Homo sapiens: one gene and its partners. The protein of the gene in region 4 purifies or fractionates together with the protein of the main gene of each other region. This does not show direct contact. Each region holds a gene or a part of one and is shown on either strand. Other genes may lie near its edges. The genes, in order: MIOS, CCZ1, CCZ1B, PLAAT4, CASTOR2, PPP1R9A and RMC1.

Region 1 (3,500 bases), on a different chromosome or scaffold from region 4:
AATACAGTTTTCATTTAGTATTTTTTAAAAAGAAAGAGATAAGGTTTTTTTACTCTGGCATTTTGCCAGAGGATCCTCGGAAAAACAAATCCTAATACAAAACCTCAGGGGTTTTTTTCTTATCAGGAATATTTCGCTTGGAAATAACTAAAATATATATAGCTATTGGTCTTTAGTACACCTAAAAAATAATTTTTGAATATTCAGAATACTGAATCCTTACTTGCTGGTCCATTTTGAAACCATTATAGTTTAGCTGTAGCATAGAGAAAAACATGAAATTCACTGTAATTTTTTTTGTAGTCTAAAAGTTAAAAAAGTCAATGTTTTGCTCAGATTGGCATCTTTTCCTTCACCTTTGCTCTAACAAAAGTCTCCCTCATTTAAGAGTGCAATAGAAAATAGGTGATGATGGAAAAAAGAATTGATATTTAAAGCCATTTCTAATTATAATTTTGCTATAACTTGAAAGGGTGATACTTTCCTATCTTGTGTACCTGGGAAATTTGGTGGTCGATTTAAACACCCATACTAACAATAGGGAAAATGTATCTTTCCAGTGATTTTAAGGACTGAAGAGAAGACTTCTCTGAGTCAAACATTCTTTTCCATTTAGAAGTAAATTGTTCTATACAAAATCCAAAGATACTTCTTTGCTATTTTTATTTTTATTTTAAAAGACCTTAAATCTAATGTATTAGGCAAAGGAAGCAAGCACAAAGTAACTTGGGAAAGTGTTTATAGAAATGAGGAATATAAAGCTGTTAAGAACATAAAGTGGGAAACACTGCTTTATTTGGAAAAGAAAGAAAAAGATTAGAATCAAGAAATAGATTAAGAAAACTTATATAATAAGTGTAGAAAATACTTAAAAGTCAAAGTTAAAGGAAAATTCAGTTTTTTCTTTTGAAGCTGAACTTCGGTTAGAAGACTAGGCAGCCATACTGCTGAAGGCAAAGTTAGCAGCTTATCAGCATGCATCTAAACTGCTAAGAACAAATGTTTAAAAGACTATTGGTAACAAATGCTTTCTTGCAAATGGGTCTAAATGCAGTTCTGTGGTAATTCTTGTAGTTCATTTTGTCCTGGAAAAATTGTAAGTGTAATACTGTAATTAAAGTATTGAAATATTACTTTCTGCACTTTGCATTGACACTTATATACATAAGTGTCTGCATTATATATTTAGGAATAGGAAAATAAAATGATTTTGAATATTGCAGTCTTGAGATGCAATATTTACTATAAGTGTTTTTGAAATACCTTTACATTAATAAACTTGTTAAAGTTGACAGTGATTCTGGTAGGATGACTTCACTTTTCTTCATTTAGTAAGCAATAACATACATATATGGGAACATACACAGGAATAACTTATATAAGACCCTGCCTGGATTGAGAACTTGAAAAGTAAAAGATCTGCTTCCCTGCACAGAGTTTGCACACATGGGCATGAGTTTTATAAGGGTAGAAATGTTTTGCTTATTGTCTTTGCCAAATTTTCCAGTCTGAATCAAAACCCAAACCCCCCCCTTTTTTTTTTTTTTCAAGAGTAAAGTGCAACTTTATTAAGAAAGTAAAGGAATAAAAGAATGGCTACTCCATAGGCAGAGCAGCCCAAAACCCTTATTCTCTGAGCTCATTTTTCTGAGGGTAAAAGTCACCCTCTGATTTCTATTTATGGTTTAAGAAATGTAGAAGAGATATTAAGCTTTTGATCACTTTGATTAGCTGGCTGTTTTTAATATGCAGGAGATCTGAATCTCAATGTGGTAGCAATGGCTTTATCGGGTTATACGGATGAGAAGAACTCCCTTTGGAGAGAAATGTGTAGCACACTGCGATTACAGCTAAATAACCCGTATTTGTGTGTCATGTTTGCATTTCTGACAAGTGAAACAGGATCTTACGATGGAGTTTTGGTAAGCTAACTTGTTTTTTAAGATCTTCCTTTGAATTAAGATAGGAGTTTTTATCTAACTTTATTAAAATTTTCAAATGTCTGTTGCATAAAATATTATATTTTTATGCATATGTTATTTAAAATAAGGCATCTTGGGCTTTTTTTTTGAGCAGCTCTTCTTGAGTGTGATTCCCGTCCTAGAGTTAGTTAACTGATACCAAACTGGATTTGATTTTTATGGTTTTAATATAATTTACAGATATAGAAGGAATAAAGATTTTATCCTTTAGCTTAAGAACTGAGCTGTAGAAATCTACAGCTGTGTAAACATAAAAATATATTCGCTGTTTACACTGTGCACACATGCACGTGTGTGTGTGTGTGTGTGTGTGTGTGTGTGTGTGTGTGTAGTTAAATAAAACAACTCACGATTATTGATCAGTTATGGTGGAGGTGGCCATACATCTTGTCCCAGTTAGTCTTTGTGGTTCCTGTTAGGAATGATAACAGTACTTACAGTGGACTATTTCAGCTTTTTATTTGGTCTTTGTGTTATTCTTTTTCTCTTCTGTTTTAACCACCTGTGATCATAACACAATCAAATAGGTTCTTTATCACAAAACGGGGAAAGAAAGAATGAAGTGAGATTTGCTTACCAGTTTTAGCTATTGGGTTTTAAGCTAAACAATAGTACTACAACTTTCTTTGCACTACTTGGCTTCTTTCTAGCAGTGGGAAGAACTTTCTACACTGAAATTCATTTCTGTGTTTGCTACTGTACCATTTCTTATCAATTATACATTTCTTGAATAAGTGATTTAAGGATTAGTCCCTAAGAATTTGTAAAAATATGTATTTTATTGGAGCAGCTTAATGAAATGTTTAATAAATGTGTATTTTGCACTTTATGTACTTTATTACTTTTAATAAATTACTATTGAACTTTTTCTGACCAATTCAAATTAATACGTATAATGTTAGGACTTTATTTTTTAACTGTAATTAATCTTTTTTGTTAAACAGAAGACTTTAAATGTATCTTGGAGAGATAAAATAATGCTTTCACGAAGTGTTAGAGAATGATAGAGACTAGATAAACAAGTGGATTGTTAACTTCTGAATTGATAAAAGATGTATATTGTTTAAATATTAAATTTCTGCATTTTAAGTTAAGTGACCCATAATAAGTACTTTTCTTTCCCTTTTTTTTTTTTTTTTTTTTGTTGTTGTTGTTGTTGTTTTTGAGACAGTGTCTTGCTCTGTACCCATACTGGAGTGCAGTGGTGCAATGGCAGCTCACTGCAACCTCCACCTCCTGGGTTTAAGTGATTCTTGTGCCTCAGCCTCCCAAGTAGCTGAGACTGCAGGCATGCACCACCATGCCGGCTAATTTTTGTATTTTTAGTAGAGACGGGGTTTCCTCATGTTGGCCAGAAATATCAATTCTGGTCTCGAACTCCTGATCTTGAATGATCCACCTGACTTGGCCTCCCAAAGTGCTGGGATTACAGATGTGAGCCGCCATGCCCTGCCCCAGTATCCTTGTTTTGCTATACATAAATTTGAGTTATTAGATAACAGTCATCTTGAGTACGAA
Region 2 (3,500 bases), on a different chromosome or scaffold from region 4:
TTGTCTGTCTCCTTTTAAAAAACCGGTTCCAGAGTCTGATACCTGCTAGTTTCTCTGTGCTTTTTCCATGTGCTGCTCCTTCCTGCCTCATTTCAGATCAGGTGGTTTGCCTGAAAGCTTGTTTTTCTCCTCCTCCTCTTTCTTCACCGAAGATCCGGAGAATTAAAATCCATGTACATTTCTGAGACCTAGGATCACGTTCCCTGTCTACAGCATACCCATATTTTCCCAGGGGACTAGGGGAGAGAATGTGGCATTACCATATAACCCAGGAAGCTAAGAGACATCTGCTCCTAAAATGAAACAGTGTGGCTTTGGAGGTTTCCTGCATAATCCTACACGGAATTCAACCAGCGAGTCCAATCCCTTGTGACTTTTTTTTTTTTTTTATCTCAAATGGCATGTAAAATACAGGACTGTAGGAGTAGCCTTTTGCAGGTCAGGATAAAGTTCCAGTGCCTGGACTCAAGTTTAACCCTTTACCTTCCTTAACTTCGCAGTCAGGTGGTGAGCCTCTTGATATAATGTTAAAGAGAAAAGCACCAGTAGTCCCAGCTACTCAGGAGGCTGAGGTGGGAGGTTCGCTTGAGCCTGGGAATCGGTGGCTGCAGCAAGCTGTGGTCACACCACTGTAATCCAGCCTGGGCGACAGACGAGACTCATCTCTTGAAAAATGAAAAAAGATGAGGCCAGGCACAGTGGCTCACATATGTAATCCCAGCACTTTAGGAGGCTGAGGCGGGAGCACTGCTTGAGTCCAGCAGTTCGAAACCAGCCTGGCAACGTAGCAAGACCCCCATCTCTACATAAAATACAAAAATTAGCTGATGGTGGCGCATGCCTGTAGTCCCAGCTAGTCTGGAGGCTGAGATGGGAGGACCGCTTGAGCCCTGGAGGCCAAGGCTGCAGTGAGCCATGATCGCACCACTGCTTCCAGCCTGGGTGACAGAGCAAGACCTTGTCTCAAAAAAAAAAAGAAAAAAAAATTTTTTTTAATAAAAAATGAGTTTTATCCAGGGCTTCAAATTCTTTGGAAAAGTTTGACAAAGTATACCACGTAAATTCAGATTTACCTCAATGCTAAGAATTATGTTTAGGAAAAAGGAAACTCATTTTGATCTCAGGTACAAAAATAGATTGCTTTGAGTTTTAAGTAGCTTTAGACTTTAAAAAGTTAGAATTTATTCTGTGTTACTAAAAATGACTTGAAAAAAAAATTTTTGTTTAATGAGCTTTATCACAGCAGTGGAAAGACAGAAGACAGTTCCAAACGTTTAACCCAGTGCTTTTCTGTTGTTGCAGGAGTGGATTAGAACAAGATGACATGAGAATTTTATACAAATACCTTACCACCTCCCTTTTTCCAAGGCACATCGAACCTGAGGTATGATGGGTACCATAGCTGCGCACAATTACATGCAGGGGCACAGAGAGGGCAGGTGGAGTGAGATGGTGGTGCATGGGGGCGTTTCTGATCGTTTCTGATGTATGTTTTGTCTTACTGTGATATTTGTGTCACTGTATATCAATTAGCACAGAAAACCACATGCAGCTCTCCTCCAGTATGTGACATTCAGATGTGATACAGAAAGCATCGTTTTGTGTGTCTGTGTGTTGGTTTTTTTGTGTGTGTTTTTGTTTGTTTGGTTTTTGAGACGGAGTCTCGAACTTTCGCCTGGGATGGAGAGGTTCAAGCAATTCTCCTTGCCTCGGCCTCCCAAGTACCTGGGATTACAGGTGCCTGCCACCACGCCCAGCTAATTTTTTTGTATTTTTAGTAGAGACAGGTTTCACTATGTTGGCCAGGCTGGTCTCGAACTCCTGACCTTGTGATCTGCCCACCTTGGCCTCCCAAAGTGCTGGGATTACAGGCGTGAGCCACCGCCCCCAGTCCACAAGCATGTTTTTAAGAGGAGTGAGTCATTGAGTAGAGGAAAATTGGATTTTACTTTACTTTTAATTTATGTATTTTATTTTATTTATTTATTTATTTATTTATTTATTTATTTATTTATTTATTGGGACAGAGTTTTGTTCTTTTCGCCCAGGCTGGAGTGCAGTAGTGCAATCTCAGCTCACTGCAACTTCCGCTTCCTGGATTCAAACAATTCTCCGGCCTCAGGCTCCCGAGTAGCTGAGATTATAGGCACCTGCCACCATGCCCGGCTAATTTTTATATTTTTAGTAGAGACGGAGTTTCACCATGTTGGCCAGGCTGGTCTCGAACTCCTGACCTCAGGTGATTGACCCGCCACAGCCTTCCAAAGTGCTGGGATTACAGGCGTGAGCTACTGCTCCTGGCCAAAAAATTGGATTTTAGATCGGGTTCTAGGAACCTTTAAAATGCCAGTGATCTTTAAAACAATCGACTTGTGTAGTCTTTTCCTCTATCAACAGGAGACCTAATTTTCAGTAGATGTTTTAGTGCCTACCCGGCTTTCCACTCTAGTACTTAATTTCCCGGTTTCCTGCAGAGAACTTTTAAATGATATCACTGTGTTCTCCCCAAAGTATTTTCAGAGCTTAACATACAAAAATCATTTTGGCTCAGTTGAACTCACTCTCTTCGCTTGTTCGTTCCCTCCCTCTTGTCCTCCTGCTTTCCAAGTTTTTTTTTAAGAGACGAGGTCTCACTTTGTTGACTCGCATGGTCTCAAACTCCTGGGCTCAAGCGGTCGTGTCACCTCAGCCTCCCAAGTAGCTGAGACTACAGGTGTGTGCCACCACACCTGGCTAATTTTTTGTAGAGATGGGATCTCGTCATGTTGCCCAGGCTATTCTCAAACTCCTGGGCTCAAGTAATCTGCCTGCCTTGGCCTCCCAAAGTGCTGGGATTATAGGCATGAGCCACCTCACCTGGCCAAAAATTTAAAAACTAGCCAGGTTTGGTCACACATGCCTCTATCAGGAGGCTGAGGTGGGAGGATTGCTTGAGCCTAGGAGTTCAAGGCTGCAGTGAGCCATGATCATGCTGCACGCATTCCAGCCTGGGCAACAGAACAAGATCCTGTCTCTAAAAGAAAAAGACAAATGGCATGGAACCAATTAGTAGATAATGCTGTTTTTCAAAGCTTGGAAAATAAATAAAAAGTCTGATAAGTCATTCTCAACATTAAATGTATTTGCAGTTAGCAGGAAGGGATTCTCCAATAAGAGCAGAAATGCCAGGAAATCTTCAACACTATGGAAGGTAGGACTTCTGTTCTTTGATTTATGATACTGGGTTTTCTTTCTTTTTTGACTCAGAGTCTGGCTCTGTTACCCAGGCTGGAGAGCAGTGGCAAGATCTCCGCTCACTGCAACCTCCGCCTCCCCGGGCTCAAGTGACTGTCATGCCTCAGCCTCCCAAGTAGCTGGAACTACAGGCATGAGCCACTATGCCTGGGTAATTCATTTTGTATTTTTAGTAGAAACAGGGTTTCATCATGTTGGCCAGGCTGGTCTTGAACTCCTGACTTCAAGTGATCCACCTGCCTTGGCCTCCCAAAGTGCTGGGATTA
Region 3 (3,500 bases), on a different chromosome or scaffold from region 4:
ACTTACCCCTATCTCTAGGCTCCAGGGTTGTTTAAAGAGAAGTCTATAAATGACTGCAAAGTGACTCTGTATTTGTCTTAGAGAAGAAAATAATGAGGCCTTTGAAACAGGTAGTGAGGTTTATGCCTACATTTATTCAGTAAGTATTGAACTCCCTTCTCTTTTCTCAGCCTTATAGTAGGAATGTGTCCCCATTGATGAAAAAGTGTATCTATGTGCTCAAGGAACATACAGAATGCAGATAATTTTATGATTTAAAAGTTTCAGTGAGGCAGGGCACAGTGGATCACACCTGTAATTTCAGCATTCTGGGAGGCTAAGGTGGGAGGATTGCTTGAGCCCAGGAATTCAGGACCAGTCTGGGCAATATAGCAAGACCCCATCTCTACAAAAAAATTTTATAAAAGTTAGCCAGGTATCATGGTGCATGCCTGTAGTCCCAGCTACCTGGGAGGCTGAGGTGGGAGGATCGCTCGCACCTTGGAGGTCGAGGCTGCAGTGAACTGTGATTGCACCACTGCACTCTACCCTGGGCAACAGCGAGATTCCATCTCAAAAAAAAAAAAAAAGGATAAAAAGTTTGGTGATTCCATTTATTAACAGAACACTGAAAAATAAAAAAACAGAAATGTGGGTGATATTATGTATGTAAATTGAAACTTAAGGGTAAGTTGAAATTTTTGAAAGATGCCTAGAGCAATTAGGTGGTTTCATAAAACAGCATCACTTAACAGTATTTTTTGTAACTTACATTTTTAACTCAAGTTTTCTCACGTAAATATTCTCTGTTGGAAAGAACTGGGAGATTTAATGAGCTGAATTAATAATCTAAAGGAAAAAAAGAACTTGTTATACTGAAAAAGTGAGCATAGGAAACTGATTTTTTTTTCTGCAATCTTTTACCTCACTAGCTTTTTAATGGTACATTTCTGAAAGCCATGGAAGACGGAGGCGTCAAGCTTCTGAAAGAAAGATTAGAGAAATTCTTCCATCGGGTAAGTATTTTGAATTTCATTTATAACTTTACTAAGCATTCATCAGGTTTTTAGAGAAATATAGACAGACAAGTTTGTTTCTTATCTACAAAAAACCCAGAACTTGAAAGTGGCAAAGAGCCTGAGACAGACCGTCGCAAAACTGGAGCAGCGAGGAAACGCATGAGGCGTGTGCTCTGGAACCTTCCCTCCAGCTGTGGTGTAAGGCAGAGCTTCCTGCGTTTGCCCGGGGCTCTTAAAGGGTCCTGGAGACATCGTTTGGCCTCCCTGTGTTTTACCTGCATCTGTCCTTCTGGGCTTACTCAGCAGCCATCTTTTGTGTGATAGATTAGTTGATAAGGAAAACTTAATTATTGGAGTTGCACAATCTCAGGGATTGGTTCTGTTCACTAAACGGGCGTAAACTGTCTTGATGTAGGTAAGAGTTATTGGCCTTGACAGACTTTGTCAGATTAGCGATTGGGGAGATTTGTTCCAAGTGCTGTCCTCTTTCGTTGTAATTGAATTTTGCATGTTTCACCCTACCTTGTCAAGCTCAGTTTATCTTTTTTTTTAAAAGGAAACAAAGAGACAGGGTCTTGTCTTGGCTGTTTTGCCCAGGCTGGTTTCAAGCGATCTTCCCTCCTTGGCCTCCCAAAGTGCTGGGGTTAAAGGCGTGAGCCAACTCGCCTAGCCTAGTTTATCTTGAAGCAACAATTCTCAATTTATTTTCTTCTGAAAATACCTTCTGTATCTATTTTTGAATTCGACTTTCTAAAACAGCTTTCATAGCTATTTTTGAATTTTTTTGTTTCTCTGAATTACTTTTCTTTGTTGTTTTGTCATTTTAATGACCACAATTATCCACTCGCATATTATCTCCTGGTTTCTGTTCTTGTCCTCATTTCTCTCTTACCCGTCAACATATGGATAGAACTGTTGTCCTGAGTACATATCATTTAGACATGATTTTAGTATAAGATGGCACTCTTGGCTGGGTGTGGTGGCTTACGCCTGTAATCCCAGCACTTTGGGAGGCCGAGGCGGGCAGATCTTGAGGTCATGAGTTCGAGACCAGCCTGGCCAACATGGTGAAACCTCGTCTCTACTAAAAAATACCAAAAAACTAGCTGGGCGTGGTGGCGCACGCCTGTAATCCCAGCTATTCTGGAGGCTGAGGCAGGAGAATCGCTTGAACCCCAGAGGCAGAGGTTGCAGTGAGCCGAGATCGCACCGCTGCACTCCAGCCTGGGTGACAGACCAAGACTCCATCTCGGGGGGGAAATAAAGATGGCACTCTCTGTAGTATTAATGGATAGATCCCTCATTAGGTTAGTCTAATTTGAAGAGCATTAAGGCAGGGAGTTAATTTTTTTTTTTTTTTTTGAGACAGAGTCTTACTCTTGTCACCCAGGCTAGAGTGCAATGGTGTGATCTTGGCTCACTGCAACCTTAGTCTCCCAAGTTCAAGTGATTCTCCTGTCTCAGCCTCCTGAATAGTTGGGATTACAGGCTACCACGCCCGGCTAATGTTGTAATTTTATTAGAGACGGGGTTTTGCCATGTTGGCGAGGCTGGTCTCAAACTCCTGACCTCAAGTGATGTGCCCGCCTTGGCCTCCCAAAGGGCTGGGATTACAGGCGCGAGCCGCTGTGCCTGGCCAGGAATTAAATACTTGAAAGTGCTAGCTGGGCACAGTGGCTCATGCCTGTATTCCCAGCGCTTTGGGATGCCTAGACACGAGAATCACGGAGGCCAGAAGTTCAAGACCAGCCTAGGCAACATAGCAAGACTCTGTCTATACCAAAAAAAAAAAAAAATTTTTGGCCAGGCGTGGTGGCTCACACCTCTAATCCCAGCACTTTGGGAGGCTGAGGCAGGCAGATCACGAGTCAGGAGATTGAGACCATCCTGGCTAACATGGTGAAACCCTGTCTCTACTAAAAATGGAAAAAAATAGCTGGGCATGGTGGCAGGCGCCTGTAGTCCCAGCTGCTCAGGAGGCTGAGGCAGGAGAATGGTGTGAACCTGGAAGGCGGAGCTTGCAGTAAGCTGAGATCGCACCACTGCACTCCAGCCTGGATGACAGAGCAAGACTCTGTCACAAAAAAATAAATTTAAAGCAGTAAAACACAATACTGAATAAACATTAAGTAGATAGTTTGAACTTTGTATCTTGGAATTGGTACTGAGTTGACACTCAGTCACCCATGTCTTCACCACGGCCTCATTGTTGTGCTGTTTGCTAGTATGTAATTGTACCATAAATGTGAGTCTGACATAAGATTATTTTCAGTTATCAAGGAGCATTATATTCAGTGTACTATTAGTAAATTTTATGCCTTATTTTTTTTCCACAGTATTTGCAAACGCTACATTTGCAGTCATGTGACCTACTTGACATTTTTGGTGGAATCAGCTTCTTCCCGTTGGATAAAATGACTTATTTGAAAATCCAGTCCTTTATTAATAGAATGGAGGAAAGCCTGAATATAGTCAAATACACTGCTTTTCTCTATAACGATC
Region 4 (3,500 bases):
TTAAGCACCACATGAGACGATACCGGAAGGTAATTAGGTTTTTTTCGCCTCCCTGAGAGTAAAATTAATGACATGCAATTATGTCGCTGTTATGTCTGTGTAGAATGATGAAGACAATTCCTTGAACATCTGTTACATATCAGACATAGTGCTGGGTGTCGTGTATGCATTATCGTAGGTGATCCTCCTGACATCACCTGACATGGAAGAACTGAGGTTCTGAGAATCAAGAGCCTTCTCTAAAGTCACCCGGCTAGAAATTGCTGGAACTACCCAGTGAGTGTTCACTCAATGTTACCTTCCTCCTTTGTGATTCAGAAGTCTATAAAAACATGGTAGAAGTCCTTTCTGAAGGGGCAGATGGCTGTTTATTGATCCTTCAGTCTTGTTTCAATTAGATCATACTTTTGCCAGCGAGAGAGGGAAACAGAGGAAAGGATCTAGAGAACGCCTGAGACAGGGCACGAGGGTCAGGCTGCTGGAGGCATGGGGGAGGCTCATCTCCACTGGGACCCCCACAGCTGCTTCTAACACAGGATTTTGTGGCTGCTTCAGGCTGTCGCTTTTTTTTGGTATCTCCTAATCGCAAAAGAGCATCCAGCAACAACCAGGATTCCAAGCGCCGTGGCCACACCGACTTCAACCTTGGCCTTTTCCACCTGCAAAGCAAGCAGCTTTTGTTGAGCGTTCACGGCAAGCCAGGCTGGCACTTTCTCCCTCCCAAGGGCCTGGAACTCCTCTCCCTCTCCCCTCTCTCCTGCCTCCCCTAAGGCCTGGCATCTCCTCTCTTCTCTCCCAGCTGGCTGGCTCAGAATCCTCTCCCAGAGAAGCCGTTGGTTGTATCCCCAGGGACTCCATTTTCTGGGCTGTGACCACTTCTTGGTGTTCGACTTGTCTGGGCTTGTCCTGAGAATGGGCCCATGAGGTCCTTTTGAGAGAGCTTCCAAGTGAGGACATTTGTTCTGATTTGGGGCAAGGAAGAAGGTTTGTGCCTCGCTTCCTAGGGTCAGAGCTCCAGGGGCCAGACTGGGGACTATTTTGCAGTCTGGGTCCTCCCTGAGCTACACCTTTGCACAGGGAGGGCTGTGGCAGAAGCTGAGGGGAGACTTAGGGAGGCCATGGCCATATGCGTGCCCTGGGGTCACTGTGTACTATTCCCAACTGCAGCCTGGAAACTTCCATCTCCAGCTGTACTTCAGCCTAAACTCCATGCCTTATCTCCACCTGGGCCTCTAATGGGGCACCTCAGACATCACATGCCACGCCAAACTCTGGATTTCCCTCCGCAAAGCCTCTACTCCTGCCACCATCCCTCTCTCATCAAGGGCCCCCAACCATTCAGTCACGCAGGCCAGGGGCCCTGAGTAGGCATCACAGGCAGAGACTCTAGAAAGGGACAGCTGGGGTTCAAATCCCGGTTCTGCCACTTATTAGTTGAGTGTTTTGGGGCAACAAATGTGAAAGACTGTGAAGGGGCAAGGGATGGAGGCTGTGCCCAGATCTTACACACAAATGTCCTTGAGCTCTTACACAGGTCCACGGACCCTGAGCGTCCCTTGCCTGAGTACTCTTTGGGGGGTTGCAGGACCTGTCATTGTCCTGGGTTGGCCCAGATTCTCCTGATGACCCCCAGAACTTCAGGAGCCATTTTCAGGATAGGTTTTAGAGGGGAAGGATCCTCAGAGCTCCTCCATCCACCCCCTCCTCTGCACATGGAGAGGCCTGGGGGGAAGGGAACTGTCCAAAGACCCTCTGTGGATTAGAAGCAGATCTGGCATTGGAGCTCAGAGGTCCTGACTCTCAGCCAGCAGGTCTCTAAGAGGCTGCATTTGCATCATTCACAGTGATCGCCTGGCTGCACAGCCCCGTGAGTCCAGCCCCAAGCAGAGGGAGATGGATTATCCAGAGAGGTCCTTACCTGTTTACAGCGGGACTTGCCATATCTCAGCTGGGTGACAAAGTGCTCACAGTTCCTGCTCACAATACTGTACTTCATCTTCTGACCAACCATCTCCTTCGCAGAACTGATGATCACCTCCACGGGCCGTGGTTGGTACTCATGGTCCAAGCTGTTGTTGACCCGATAGCAACAGCCTCCCACCACATCTTCCAGGCGCTCCCGTTTCACCTCTGCACTGTTGCTCAGGACTGAGAAGACACTGGAGGAGCCAGCCCCGGGGTACTCACCTGCAATCAGAGGCACTCTCACTGGCAGGGGAAGGTGAAGTAGGGAGAGAAGGGCTTGAAATCTCCACTAAGGAACTACTGGTGTTTATCCTTTCACAAATGTGATTGAAGGATTCACAGATTTTGCTTTTTTTTTTTATTTTGATGGAGTCTCACTCTGTTGCCCAGGCTGGAGTGCAGTGACGCGATCTCAGCTCACTGCAAGCTCCATCTCCTGGGTACACGCCATTCTCCTGCCTCACCCTCCCGAGTAGCTGGGACTACAGGCACCCACCACCACGCCGGGCTAATAGATTTTGCTCTCTTTTTTTAATAAAATAAGGTGTGAATGTTCGTTCAAGTCAGTGAATGTCATGATTGCCAGTGGCTGCTGCCATATTCCATGCTATGCATGTACATCACTTCTGTGGCCAATCCCCTGTTATCCGTCATTTAGGTATTGGAAAAATTTTCATCATTATAAACAATGATGGTAAAGCATATTTATTACCTGTTCAGCTTTGTACACTTGTGTTTCGGAAAAAGATCCAATTCGTTTAGTACCCACTGTTTCAGTTACCATGCTGTGCTGTTACACATACTTCCTAATTTAATCTCCTTTTTAACTTTCAAGGAAAATATTATCATCTCAATTTAAAAACCAATATTGGGCTGAGAGACATCATGAGACTTTTCTGTGCTATGAAAAGTCCTAGAATCAGGATGTGAAACTGCTTCTCTTAAGCCCCAAAGGGCAGGCTCCTTCCACTGCACTGGGCTGACCCTGAGGGAATCCTTTGTAAAGTGTCTTCTGTCCTACAATCTGGCACAGTTCTAGGCACATAGAGAGGAACACAGAAGAGCTGTCAACCAATGGAGCCCCAATTCCATTATATAGTGACTCCAGGTGTTATCTTATTTTTATTAAAATGGATAGTACCTAATGCACACAATAATTAGGTGTGTTACCTCTTTTGCCCCGTTTCTAATCTCAAGGCTGATGTTTGCATTTAGAACCCTCTTAAGAAAATCCTGTTGGCTGGGCGCAGTGGCTCATGCCTGTAATCCCAGCACTTTGGGAGGCCTAAACAGGTGGACCACTTGAGCTCAGGAGTTCGAGACCAGCCTGGACAACATGGCGAGACCTGTCTCTACAAAAAATACAAAAATTAGCTGCGCGTGGTGGCACACGCCTATCATCTCGTCTCAGCTATTCAGAAGGCTGATGTGGGAGGATCACCTGGCCTGAACTCGGGGAGGTCAAGACTGCAGTGAGCCTGATCCCTTGCATGTGCAGTTCCCAATGGGGTTTGCACTCCTATGAGAATCTAATG
Region 5 (3,500 bases), on a different chromosome or scaffold from region 4:
GGGCCCTTGAATCTCTTGCTCTGGGGGGAAGCCGAGCGCCATATTGTGAAGACACTCAAGCAGCCCTGTGGGTTGGCCCACCTGGGGAAGGACTGAGGCCTCCTGCCTACAGCCAGGCCTCACTTAGAAGTGCATCCTCCAATCCTTAGCTAAGATTTCAGACAACAGCAACCTCATGAATGACCCTGAGCCAGAACTGCTCAAACTGTTCCTGACACCTTTGCCCCCCTCCAGAGTAGTTCTGACAAGTGGGGTGAGGCCGTCCTACCAGAGACGCCCCACCCTCTCCCCTGGAGCCAGGGTCTGCATTCGAGTCCTGCCCTCACTCACCTAATCATTTCTGCACTCAAGGCCTGACAACAAGACTGCTACTGAGAACTCAAAATACTCCAAGAGCCAGTCCCATATCTCAGGTGTGGGCTCTGCACACGTGCACGCACACACTCTAATGCATAGGAACACATCCACGCTCACAGGTACATGCACAAACGTGTGCATAAACACACCTAGGCCTGCACCCCCACTCCTAGCACACAGGCCACCCTGCACTTCCAATTTCCATAGCTCCTCTTCCCTTATAGTGACAGCCACAAGCTCTCTCGGCCACCAGGCTGTCCCTGGATGCCATGGCTCAGGCCTCAGGCTCCTGCCTCTGCTCCAGGCTGCTCCTGGCTGGCTTCCTTCCCTGGGGCCTCTTTCGTTATTTTCTTGTAGAGGCAGGGTCTTGCTATGTTGACCAGGTTGGTCTTGCTATCTTGGCCTCAAGCTATCCTCCCACCTTGGTCTCCCAAAGTGCTGGGATGACAGGCCTAAGCCACCGAGCCCGGCCTCCTTTGAATGGGCCCCCACCAGGCCTAACCCCCTCCCTCAGCATGGTACCCAAAGCCAATGTCTTTTCTCTGTTGGAGAAGCCCCCCGGCCTCACTCAGGCTCTGCCTATTACACTAACCAATGTCTCCAATGCTCCAGGCCCTGCTCGGAGCGGACTAGAAGGTTGGGGGTGCTTCTTCCCATCCCCATGCAAAGCGCTTCACTCAGGAAGTGGCGTCAAAAATCCCATTGGCCAGGCGGGGTATCTCATGCCTGTAATCCCAGCACTTTGGGAGGCCAAGGTGGGCGGATCACCTGAGGTCAGGAGTTCAAGAACAGCCTGGCCAACATAGTGAAACCCTGTCTCTACTAAAAATACAAAAATTAGCCGAGCGTGGTGGTGGGTGCCTGTAATCCCAGCTACTTGGGAGGCTGAGGCAGGAGAATCACTTGAACCTGGGAAGCAGAGGTTGCAGCGAACCGAGATCGCACCACTGCACTCCAGCCTGTCTCAAAAAAAAAAAAAAAAAAAGATCCCCCCATTGCAGGGCTGAGGTGCTCTTGCCCTAAAGCCCCCTCTCTTAGCTGGGGCTGGGAAAAGCCCTGGTTGTCACCACATCCAGATCTCTAGGCTCAGAAAGGGGCCCAGGGTGGCCTTAGGACTCCCCAGGGTATCCCTGGAAAATGTGGCCAGGAGGAGGGGGCCAGTGGGAGGTGGCCTGTGTTCACCTTTGAAGATCACCAAATAGTGCCCTGGGCTTTAACAGGGGCCTGGCCCTTCCTGTCTTCCCAGTCTTCTCTCCTGACCTCCAGGGCATCCTCTGTCACCTCAGAGGGGCAAGCCCCTCCAGACCAAGCCTCCTCCTGCTGAACAAATGTCACCCTGGCTACGCTGCTGCTTCCGGAGGCCACACTGGAAGCCTCTGATCCCCCAGCTCCTTCCTTTCCCACCAGCAGCCTGGTGCCTGGAGGTGAGAGGAGGTGAGAATGCCAGTGGTTTGGAGTGAGGCTTTGGGTCCCCGCCTCTGAATCTTGGGGAGGGGAAGCTACCAGGGTCAGGCCTGCAAGCCTCTCCAGCTCAGATGCATGCCTCGGGCTGAGGACAGTGGTGTGGGCAGTGCCCCTTGAAGGAGGGCGGTCCTGGAGATGCCCATGGAGGAAGGAGGTGCAGAGTCAGCAATGCCCAGATCTTTGCTGGGTTAGGACGACGGGCTGAGGGAGGAAGGGGTGTCTTGGGAACCAGGGGAGCCCCACGACGAGGCAGAACTTATCAGTGGCAGGGAGGGGTGGTCACTGCTCTGTTCCTCCCCATCCTTCAGCTCCCACTGGTACTCTGAGTGCAGCAAGGGGAGAGGGTGGGGTTGAGACTATCTGAGCTTTTCTTAATGGAGAACCACACAGGGGCCAAGACACACACTCCAGGAGCTCAAGTGGCAGCCCCAGGGTCACCTGCTCACCCCTAGAAATTCCATGAGGCCGGGCACGGTGGCTCATGCCTGTAATCCCAGCACTTCGGGAGGCCAAGGTGGGTGGATCACTTGAGGTCAGGAGTTCAAGACCAGCGTGGCCAACATGGTGAAACCCCGTCTCTACCAAAAATACAAAAATTAGCCGCGTGTGGTGGTGAGTGCCTGTAATCTCACCTACTTGGGAGGCCAATGTAGGAGACTCGCTTGAACCCAGGAAGTGGAGGTTGCTGCAGTGAGCTGAGATCATGCCACAGCACTCCAGCCTGGGCGACAGAGCAAGACTCCGTCTCAAAAAAAAAAAAAAAAAAATTCCACATCATAGAGAGCCCTCTTCCTCCCCCGCCAGGCACCTGCCCCATCCGCCAGCGCCAAGACAACAGGCCCACTCCTCTGATTACCTCCGGGGGATGGACGGCAAACAGGTAAGGAGTTCCATGCAACTGCGGATGGAGCCCCTCTGAGAAACACATGCCCCTCCAAGTGGGGTCTGGGGCCTGGAGAGACCCTCCCACCCAGCAGACCAGGAGATAGCTGGGGGACAAGGGCAGACGGCCCCTGCCTGGGAAAAACCACACTCACACCCCACCCCGAAGAGCTGTGGAGACCAAACCAAGACTACGCTACACACAGAACGCCGAGAAGATAAACCAAGCTTTACACGAGCAGGATGGGGATGGGAAAACTAAAGGGGCCCCCTGTGACCGAGGAGCAGGGTCCCCAGGGGGCAGCTCCCACGGAGCGGGCTTGAACAGGGACCACCCCTGCAGAGCCAGCCAGGGCGGAGAGCCATACCCTGGCCCCAGCGCGCCCCGACACACATGCTTTTCTCCATGACACGAGGCCAGTCCCCAGGAGCAGCCCCAGGAGCACAACCTGAGATTTCTAAGCTTGCAGGTTACAAAAAACAAAAAAAACAGAGAAGCTGCCTGCGTAAAAAGTGCCACCCACGGAGGCAGGACACAGGCAGCGTGTGGCCCATTCAGCAGGCCCAGGTCTTCAGGGTGAGGCTGCTGGCGAGGGCAGGGGAGAGGGGGCATTCTGGTTAAAAGCAAGAAATTCCAAATACTCCTCCCTCGGGATCAACATCCCCCCAAATAAGGGCGCCCAGGGATCTTGCCTGGGGAAAGTGGGGTGCAGAAGGCATGACCCACGCCACAGCGGGCTCTCAGCACCCTTCCCACGTCCCATGTCACAGGCTCTTTGAGCTGCTGGCTTTGTTCT
Region 6 (3,500 bases), on a different chromosome or scaffold from region 4:
TGGACAAGACAATCTTGAATGTCAACAAGGTACTTAAATGCAAAATGATTATCCTTTTAGACTTAATACAATGCACTAGCATTGTGGGTAGCCAGGCAAAAAATCTGAAGTATCACATAAATATATTTGATATTTCTGAAGTATCACATAGATATATTTGTGCTGAATTTAGATAAACACTTATTGAAATGGTTCATGTGGCCATAATTCTGCAATTAAGAACCAATGGATATGCCCAAGGCTAGATGGAGGCTATAATTGGAGTAAGACCAATATAAACTAATTGTGCAATTTTTCTTCCATCTCAATTCTTGGCATATCACTTTAGCTCAAAGATACTGACCACTGATTTTGGTTAACAATAGAAGAGGGGGCCAGAAAGTTTAGGTATAGAAATACACGTGTTCTTAATCACACAACCGTACCTGCTACCTGCAGAAAACCTACTGGCTTCTTTTTCTTTTTCTTTCCACTTCTTTCCCTTGCTGGAATTCCTTCGCAAAGGCGCCCTGTAATGATAGTAAGCAGTCAGAAAGGGGAAGCTGAAATTTTCTCTTTCAATCCTCCTTTTACAGAGGGCTTTCTTTTTACATCGTGAAGTGCTTACCCCAGATCCACAAACTTCCGCTTAATTTTTCCTCCTTGCACCGCCAATGAACTGGATGCCCTTAGTGATTTGGGATCTTTGGCATCATCTAGGATATACACATTTGTGAAAAAGATCAATTATTATTATTTTTAAAGTCACAATTCAAAAGTCAATGCATCTCTGAATCTAAGGGCTTTGCCTAAATTCCTAATTGTAAAATAAATAATCAATGCCTTCTTATACGACCTAGGAGACACAGTTACATTGAGGAACTCGCAGTTAAGCAGGGGAGGTCCTCTATAGGACAGAGGCTCAACATTCATCACAAAGAGTTTTAGCTTCAACTGCATGGGAATGAACAAGGGAGAATAAATACTCTCAAATCATCCTCTGCATTCGAAGTAGGGACCAACATGACTTTTGTTCCTTCTCTGGCTCCAAATTCTTGGCTTCAAGTGCCTGGGCTCTGTCCTCCATTCCTTTCTTGCCTTGGGGTTGTAGTGCCTTCTAACAGGAACATAGCCCACTTCTCCCGTATCTCCAAAGCCCAGCGCAGAATATCACCTCTGAGAGTCTGGGAGATTTAGGGGGAAAGTCAGAGTCAAAGTTTTCTTCTCTGGCTCTCCTTTGCTAATGGCCTGTGGCCGGTCCTGGAACAGAGGAGGGGAGGACATGGGGGAGACTCCTTAAACAGGGGCTCAGCTACAAAACATTTATATCTTTGAAAGGGCCTTCTTAATAGTTAGGTTACAGCAAAACTTGGCTGGTTCCCCTTAATGTGGAAGATGCCAAAATCTCCTCAGTGTTCAGAGCAGACTGATCTTTGCCTCTAGGACTCTCAAAGGTAGCAGCTGCTGGGGAATGGGGACCCTCGAAATGATACCAAAAGCCAATAGGAAGACAGGCTTTGCAAATGGAGTTCAATGTCAAGGTGGGAACCAATTCCACTGGTGGCACTTGTTCCATCTCGGACAGGCTCTACCCAAACTATTCAGCAGAGGGTACTGATCGGCATCACGTTTCAGCATATCCAATTAGCTCAGATGATTAACAAATGCTGTTTTAAATTTGATGTTTTTTATGTGTGAAACTCTTCCTCCCCAGTTCTTTTTTGGTATCTGTTTTTCTGTCTCTTATCTTTTAAAATGTGTTTTAAATTTCTAGGAACTTTCTAGTATGGAAGGCAAAGAGAATGGCCCTCTTAAAAAAGTGTTCAATTAACTTTGCAGGTTAATGTTGCTCATGATTTTTGTTTACTTCAAGAGAAATTTCTCAACACACATCGACATACACCTTTAAAAAACATGAAGTACACACACAGTTCATGGATAGCAGTCTAGGTTCAAAGCTCTCAAGCAGCACAGGACACTGACAAATACTCCAAATGTTTTTAGCAATGAGCTTTTCATATTTTTAGTTAATGATACTTAGATTACAATAAGCAACTCACTGAAATGTACATAATGAAACACAAGAGTCAGAAATATGTCTGTGTCAAAAATCCACTTCAAGCCTCAAATATTTATTATGCATATTTGCATCATTACTCTTTGGGTAACTGAATTGTCACAGATGTGACACAATCATATAAAAAAATCCATAGACATAGACATGGCACAAACACCTTCTAAGGTGATTTTACTAATGGATTTTATTTTTAAAAGCAAGATTTAAATTTTCTTAATAGAAGCTGAAGAAAAGAAAGTGCCAAATTCTTCCAGATCAATCCTAAAGCAACTCTTAATGGCTAGGACTATGCAAAGTTAAAAGGAGACTGCCTAATTATTTCCTGAATGAGAGGTAGCTGGGAGATGTTACAATGAGCGCTGAGAAGACCAGCTGAGGCAATGTACACGAAAACACTCTGTAACCCATGAGTGTTGCAGTTATTTGGACATCATGCGACTAAAAGCCTGATTCTGCCTATCACAGAGCTTGGTGCTAGGCAACCTTACATCTTTATCTCACACATTTGCCAAAGTGCGTTCCCAGGAACACTGAAATGAATGCTTCCATAGGGCTGAAGATGTTAAGAATAAGGAATAATGTACTTTCCCATTTAAAATCGATTAAATCCATCTTTAATGCACACTAGAACTTCTAGTCTGCATAAAATCCAACATTAGATTGGTATGATTTCAGGAAAAAAGAAACATACATTTTGTTTATTTAGCTCTACGTAAGACTTCTGTTAGGCTTTTTAAAATCTCTCCAATACTACCTTTGTGACCAATTATACATCTGAGCCCCCAGATTGGGTGCCTCAACTTTAAGCTGTGGCAACCTGGTTTTCATTTTCAAATAATAAATGATCTCCTGATGGCCAAATCCTAAGGTCTTGTACTGGACTGCATCTCCTTAATCTCACTGTAATAAGATACTTGACTATCTCTTCCTTTATAATGGGGACTCCCAAATCTACCTGGCAGTCCTGACCTCTCTCTTGCGCTCATGACCTCCTCTGTTAAAAAAATGAGTTAATCCTATTTCCCCCATCATGTTGCTGATTTCCTATTTTCTGTTAATGACAAGACCATATGTTCTGAGGCGTGAAGCCCATGATAGTTTTGCCTCACTTTCTTACCTGTTACCTAGTCAAGGTATGTCTCAAGGGTCCTTGAATCATTCTTTCCTGTCACTGTCTACTGCTCCTCTTTAGAGGGCACCACCTCATAGGGTCTCCTAACTCAGCTTCTCCATACCTGGTGGTGTCTTTTCCTTTTTATTCCTCTGGTCAAACTTCTTGTGGTTTCCTAGTAATATGGCAAGTTATCTAAGATGTTTAACTTCTAAAGCTATATACTTAACCTACTGGCTCACTTTTGTGTGTAACTACTCCACCCTGCATAAGCAAACTGCTACAGCCAGGCTGGGATAGCCTTGTACCTTTAAATCATATGATATGTGCCTG
Region 7 (3,500 bases), on a different chromosome or scaffold from region 4:
GCTGGGAGTTTGAGACCAGCCTGGGCAACAAGGCAAGACCCCATCTATACCAAAACAAAAACAAACACCAACAGCACATATTGGTAGGGGATTATTATTATTATTTTTTTTTGGATACAGGGTCTTGCTCTGTCGCCCAGGCTGGAGGTACACTGACACAAACGGCTCGCTGCAGCCTCGTCCTCCCGGGCTCAAGGAATCCTCCCTCGGCAGCCTCTGGAGTAGCTGGGGCCACAGGTGTATACCACCAAACTCAGCTAATTTTTTTTTTTTTTTTTTTTTTTTTTGTAGAGACAGGGTTTTGCCATGTTGTCGTCCAGGCTGGTCTCGAACTCCTAGGCTCAGGCAATCCTCCTGCTTCAGCCTCCCAGAGTGCTGGGATTATAAGCATGAGCCACCATGCCTGGCCTCAGTAGGGGATTCTTAAAGAAGACACATATGCAGTGAGTGGCTTGGATTTTGAAAGAGGTGTGTGTGAAGGCCAGGGGTGGTGGCCCACTCCCCTCCTGTGTGCCCACTTTCATTCAGAACCATCCCATTTATTGTTCTTTTCTACCAGTATCTCTACAAATCATCTTTCCATTTAGCAGCCTTTCCTAGGGGGTCACATAGCCACCCCTCACATAAAGAATGAGGCTGTGGGTCACAGACAAGACACAACAATGTAGCCCACATCCCGATAAAAAGTGTTGGGCAGCACAGGCCTCACACTGGAATCAGAGCAAGGGGGAAGGATTCAACTTACTCTGTGAACAGACAGACAGGATGACCATCTTGCATTCCTTTCTCTGGAGGAGAAAGTCCATGAGTCTTCCTTTGTCTGGTAAGAGATTTACTATGGGCTCAAGTTTCACTTGGAGGTTCCAGAGGTAACCTGGATTTTAAGAGGCAGCAAATAAAACAGTATGATGCAAACCGTAACAAAAGCCCAAAAGTGGTTCCCCTAAACATCTGCGGGGCGGGTGGCAGGTGGTGATAAAAAGCCGCAAAGTACAGTCAGTGTAGCTTTTCCTTCCTAACCAAAGCAGAGCTGAGCCATTCAGGAGCAATTCAGGAGCGTGTCTACCACAGGAGGATGACAGCCCAACCACCGCACACCTGGCTGACTCTTTTCCAAGTAACCTCTGCATTCAGGGGCACATCAAAGGTGTAGCTCCTAGTCCTTCATTCCAAACGGGGACTTCCCTAGACCTAGCCCCTCTTTTAACGTTTAAAATAGAAAAAGATGTCAACACGTGGCATCAACTTCAGTCCTGTGCTTTGGTTTCTCCTACAACAGCTCATTAGTTTAAAAGGTAACTCCAGAGGCTCTCAATGGAACATCATAACTCATCCATTCATCGACCCATAAATGTACTGATCACCCACACTGCCAGCATCTGGTGTGGCCTTTCCCAATTGGGATGCCACAGGAGAATGAAGTGCCACATAAAAAATCATCTGGGTGACCCCCTTTTCAGTTGGCCCAAGGCAGGTACAGAGCAGCTGTACAGGAAAACACCAGCGAGATGCACAGGAGAGAAATGACTTCATTACATACATACAGTGGATGTCACATGAGGCTATGGGTTACAGACAAGGCACAACAATGCATTACATACAGTGGATGCCTACAGCATCAGGGCTAATTCTCTCCTCAAGAGTTCTTAGGAATTCCAGAGGAAAGGCAGGAAAATACACAGAGGATTAAAGAGTAACATAGGAGATTCTCTAATAACCAGCCTGGCGAGGTATTAGAGACACAGGGGCAACATGGCAAGACCCTGTCTCTACAAAAAAAAAATTATAGGCCGGCTGTGGTGGCTCACACCTGTAATCCCAGCACTTTGGGAGGCTGAGGTGGGCAGATCACGAGGTCAGGAGATCGAGACCATCCTGGCCAACATGGTGAAACCCCGTATCTACTAAAAATACAAAAATTAGCTGGGTGTGGTGGCGCATGCCTGTAATCCCAGCTACTGGGGAGGCTGAGGCAGGAGAATCGCTTAAACCCAGGAGTTGGAGGTTGCAGTGAGCCGAGATGGCACCACTGCACTCCAGCCTGGTGACAAAGCGAGATTCCGTCTCAAAATAATTATTATTATTATTATAATAAATTAACTGGGCGTGGTGATGTGCGCCTGTAGGCCCAGCTACTTGGGAGGCTGAAGCAGGAGGATCGCCTGAGCCCAGGAGCTCAAGGCTGCAGTAAGCTGAGATAGCACTACTGCACTCCAGGCTGGGTGACGGAGCAAGACCCTGCCTTAAAAAAATAAGATTTCTTTAGGCCGGGCACAGTGGCTCATGCCTGTAATCCCAGCACTTTGGGAGGCCGAGGCAGGCGGATCACCTGAGGTTGGGAGTTTGAGACCAGCCTGACCAACATGGAAAAACCTCGTCTCTACTAAAAATACAAAATTAGCTGGGCGTGGTGGCACATGCCTGTAATCCCAGCTATTCAGGAGGCTGAGGCAGGAGAATCGCTTGAACCCGGGAGGCGGAGGTTGCAGTGAGCCAAGATCACGCCATTGCACTCCAGCCTGGGCAACGAGCAAAACTCCGTCTCAAAAAAAAAAAAAAAAAAAAAAAAGATTTCTCTAATAAAGAGATTACCCAGGAAGAGACAATTAACAGACTGAGGAGGCTTCCTCAGCAAGGCCAGAAAGAGGAGCACACCTCCCGGGCTCATGCAGAACAGAAAAGGGCACGGACACCGGTGGGAAGGTCGATGGGAGAAATGAGGGAGACACCCTGGGGTGGAGTCCGGCTTTCCATCCACCCTGGGGTGGAGTCTGGCTTTTCCAGAATGGGCTTAAGCAGGAGAATGGCATTCTTAGTTGTTGCTTTAATTATTAAAAGTAGTATATGTTCTTGATAAAATGCACATATAGTAAAAAACGTATAAAGTGAAAAAAAAAAATCCCATTCCCACGCTTGAAAGGAGGGGTCATTTCTAAGAGATTCACCTTGAAAACGTCCCTGGCTACAACTGGGATCCAAAGTCAACAAGCACCATGTTGTAACACGACAACTGTCCCCGCTGACCTACCTTGGCTTGCGCTGATAATGATGTCAGGTTGAAAGACAATCCAAGATGAAGAATCCACATGTTATAGGAAATTCTAAACCAGGAAAAGATGAAAACAAAAAGCAAACCCAGTTTCCGCTAGCACTCGCCCCTGCCCACCATGTACTGAGTCCACGCTAAACGCGAGGCCCCTGGACAGTCAGGGAAGCTGCCTGCGGGGTGGCTCTCGGAGTGTTATTCACAGCTGCCCGGAGGAGGACTTCAGGACCACTCTCTGAGGGTGACCACTTGCCCTGTTGTGCACGGTGCCACACCTTAGTAAAGGATACAGAGTTTACATGGAACAGGAGACTGGCTGGTCACGGCAGCAGGACCTACAAATTGAGAAAACATAAGTGCAACGATGCAGTCAGAAAATGCTGCAAATGCTGGTACTTATGACACAAAAGTCAATACTTTTTAATGTCATTACGAAATGTTTATTCAATTGTAG

Evidence for each region.
Region 1: the proteins of PLAAT4 (region 4) and MIOS purify together in Homo sapiens (affinity purification with mass spectrometry; one large-scale study listed by BioGRID and IntAct). This does not show direct contact.
Region 2: the proteins of PLAAT4 (region 4) and CCZ1 purify together in Homo sapiens (affinity purification with mass spectrometry, with the first as the bait; one large-scale study listed by BioGRID). This does not show direct contact.
Region 3: the proteins of PLAAT4 (region 4) and CCZ1B purify together in Homo sapiens (co-immunoprecipitation; one large-scale study listed by IntAct). This does not show direct contact.
Region 5: the proteins of PLAAT4 (region 4) and CASTOR2 purify together in Homo sapiens (affinity purification with mass spectrometry; one large-scale study listed by BioGRID and IntAct). This does not show direct contact.
Region 6: the proteins of PLAAT4 (region 4) and PPP1R9A purify together in Homo sapiens (affinity purification with mass spectrometry; one large-scale study listed by BioGRID and IntAct). This does not show direct contact.
Region 7: the proteins of PLAAT4 (region 4) and RMC1 purify together in Homo sapiens (affinity purification with mass spectrometry; one large-scale study listed by BioGRID and IntAct). This does not show direct contact.

The regions. Positions count from the first base shown.
Region 1 is NC_000007.14:7,583,884-7,587,383, forward strand, and holds part of MIOS (GATOR2 complex protein MIOS), read left to right. Parts: intron 1-1,752; coding exon 1,753-1,922; intron 1,923-3,500. UniProt on the Homo sapiens protein: As a component of the GATOR2 complex, functions as an activator of the amino acid-sensing branch of the mTORC1 signaling pathway. The GATOR2 complex indirectly activates mTORC1 through the inhibition of the GATOR1 subcomplex.
Region 2 is NC_000007.14:5,908,733-5,912,232, forward strand, and holds part of CCZ1 (vacuolar fusion protein CCZ1 homolog), read left to right. Parts: intron 1-1,302; coding exon 1,303-1,384; intron 1,385-3,128; coding exon 3,129-3,190; intron 3,191-3,500. UniProt on the Homo sapiens protein: Acts in concert with MON1A, as a guanine exchange factor (GEF) for RAB7, promotes the exchange of GDP to GTP, converting it from an inactive GDP-bound form into an active GTP-bound form.
Region 3 is NC_000007.14:6,819,776-6,823,275, reverse strand, and holds part of CCZ1B (vacuolar fusion protein CCZ1 homolog B), read left to right. Parts: intron 1-911; coding exon 912-995; intron 996-3,334; coding exon 3,335-3,500.
Region 4 is NC_000011.10:63,543,308-63,546,807, reverse strand, and holds the end of PLAAT4 (phospholipase A and acyltransferase 4), read right to left. Parts: intron 2,188-3,500; coding exon 1,919-2,187; intron 660-1,918; coding exon 552-659; 3' UTR 350-551; downstream 1-349. UniProt on the Homo sapiens protein: Exhibits both phospholipase A1/2 and acyltransferase activities. Shows phospholipase A1 (PLA1) and A2 (PLA2), catalyzing the calcium-independent release of fatty acids from the sn-1 or sn-2 position of glycerophospholipids.
Region 5 is NC_000007.14:75,027,205-75,030,704, reverse strand, and holds part of CASTOR2 (cytosolic arginine sensor for mTORC1 subunit 2), read right to left. Parts: 3' UTR 2,674-3,500; coding exon of another isoform or gene 2,626-2,673; 3' UTR 1-2,625. UniProt on the Homo sapiens protein: Functions as a negative regulator of the TORC1 signaling pathway through the GATOR complex. As part of homodimers or heterodimers with CASTOR1, directly binds and inhibits the GATOR subcomplex GATOR2 and thereby mTORC1.
Region 6 is NC_000007.14:95,271,094-95,274,593, reverse strand, and holds part of PPP1R9A (neurabin-1), read right to left. Parts: intron 696-3,500; coding exon 608-695; intron 510-607; coding exon 426-509; intron 1-425. UniProt on the Homo sapiens protein: Binds to actin filaments (F-actin) and shows cross-linking activity. Binds along the sides of the F-actin. May be involved in neurite formation. Inhibits protein phosphatase 1-alpha activity.
Region 7 is NC_000018.10:23,524,011-23,527,510, reverse strand, and holds part of RMC1 (regulator of MON1-CCZ1 complex), read right to left. Parts: intron 3,382-3,500; coding exon 3,337-3,381; intron 3,083-3,336; coding exon 3,029-3,082; intron 875-3,028; coding exon 746-874; intron 1-745. UniProt on the Homo sapiens protein: Component of the CCZ1-MON1 RAB7A guanine exchange factor (GEF). Acts as a positive regulator of CCZ1-MON1A/B function necessary for endosomal/autophagic flux and efficient RAB7A localization.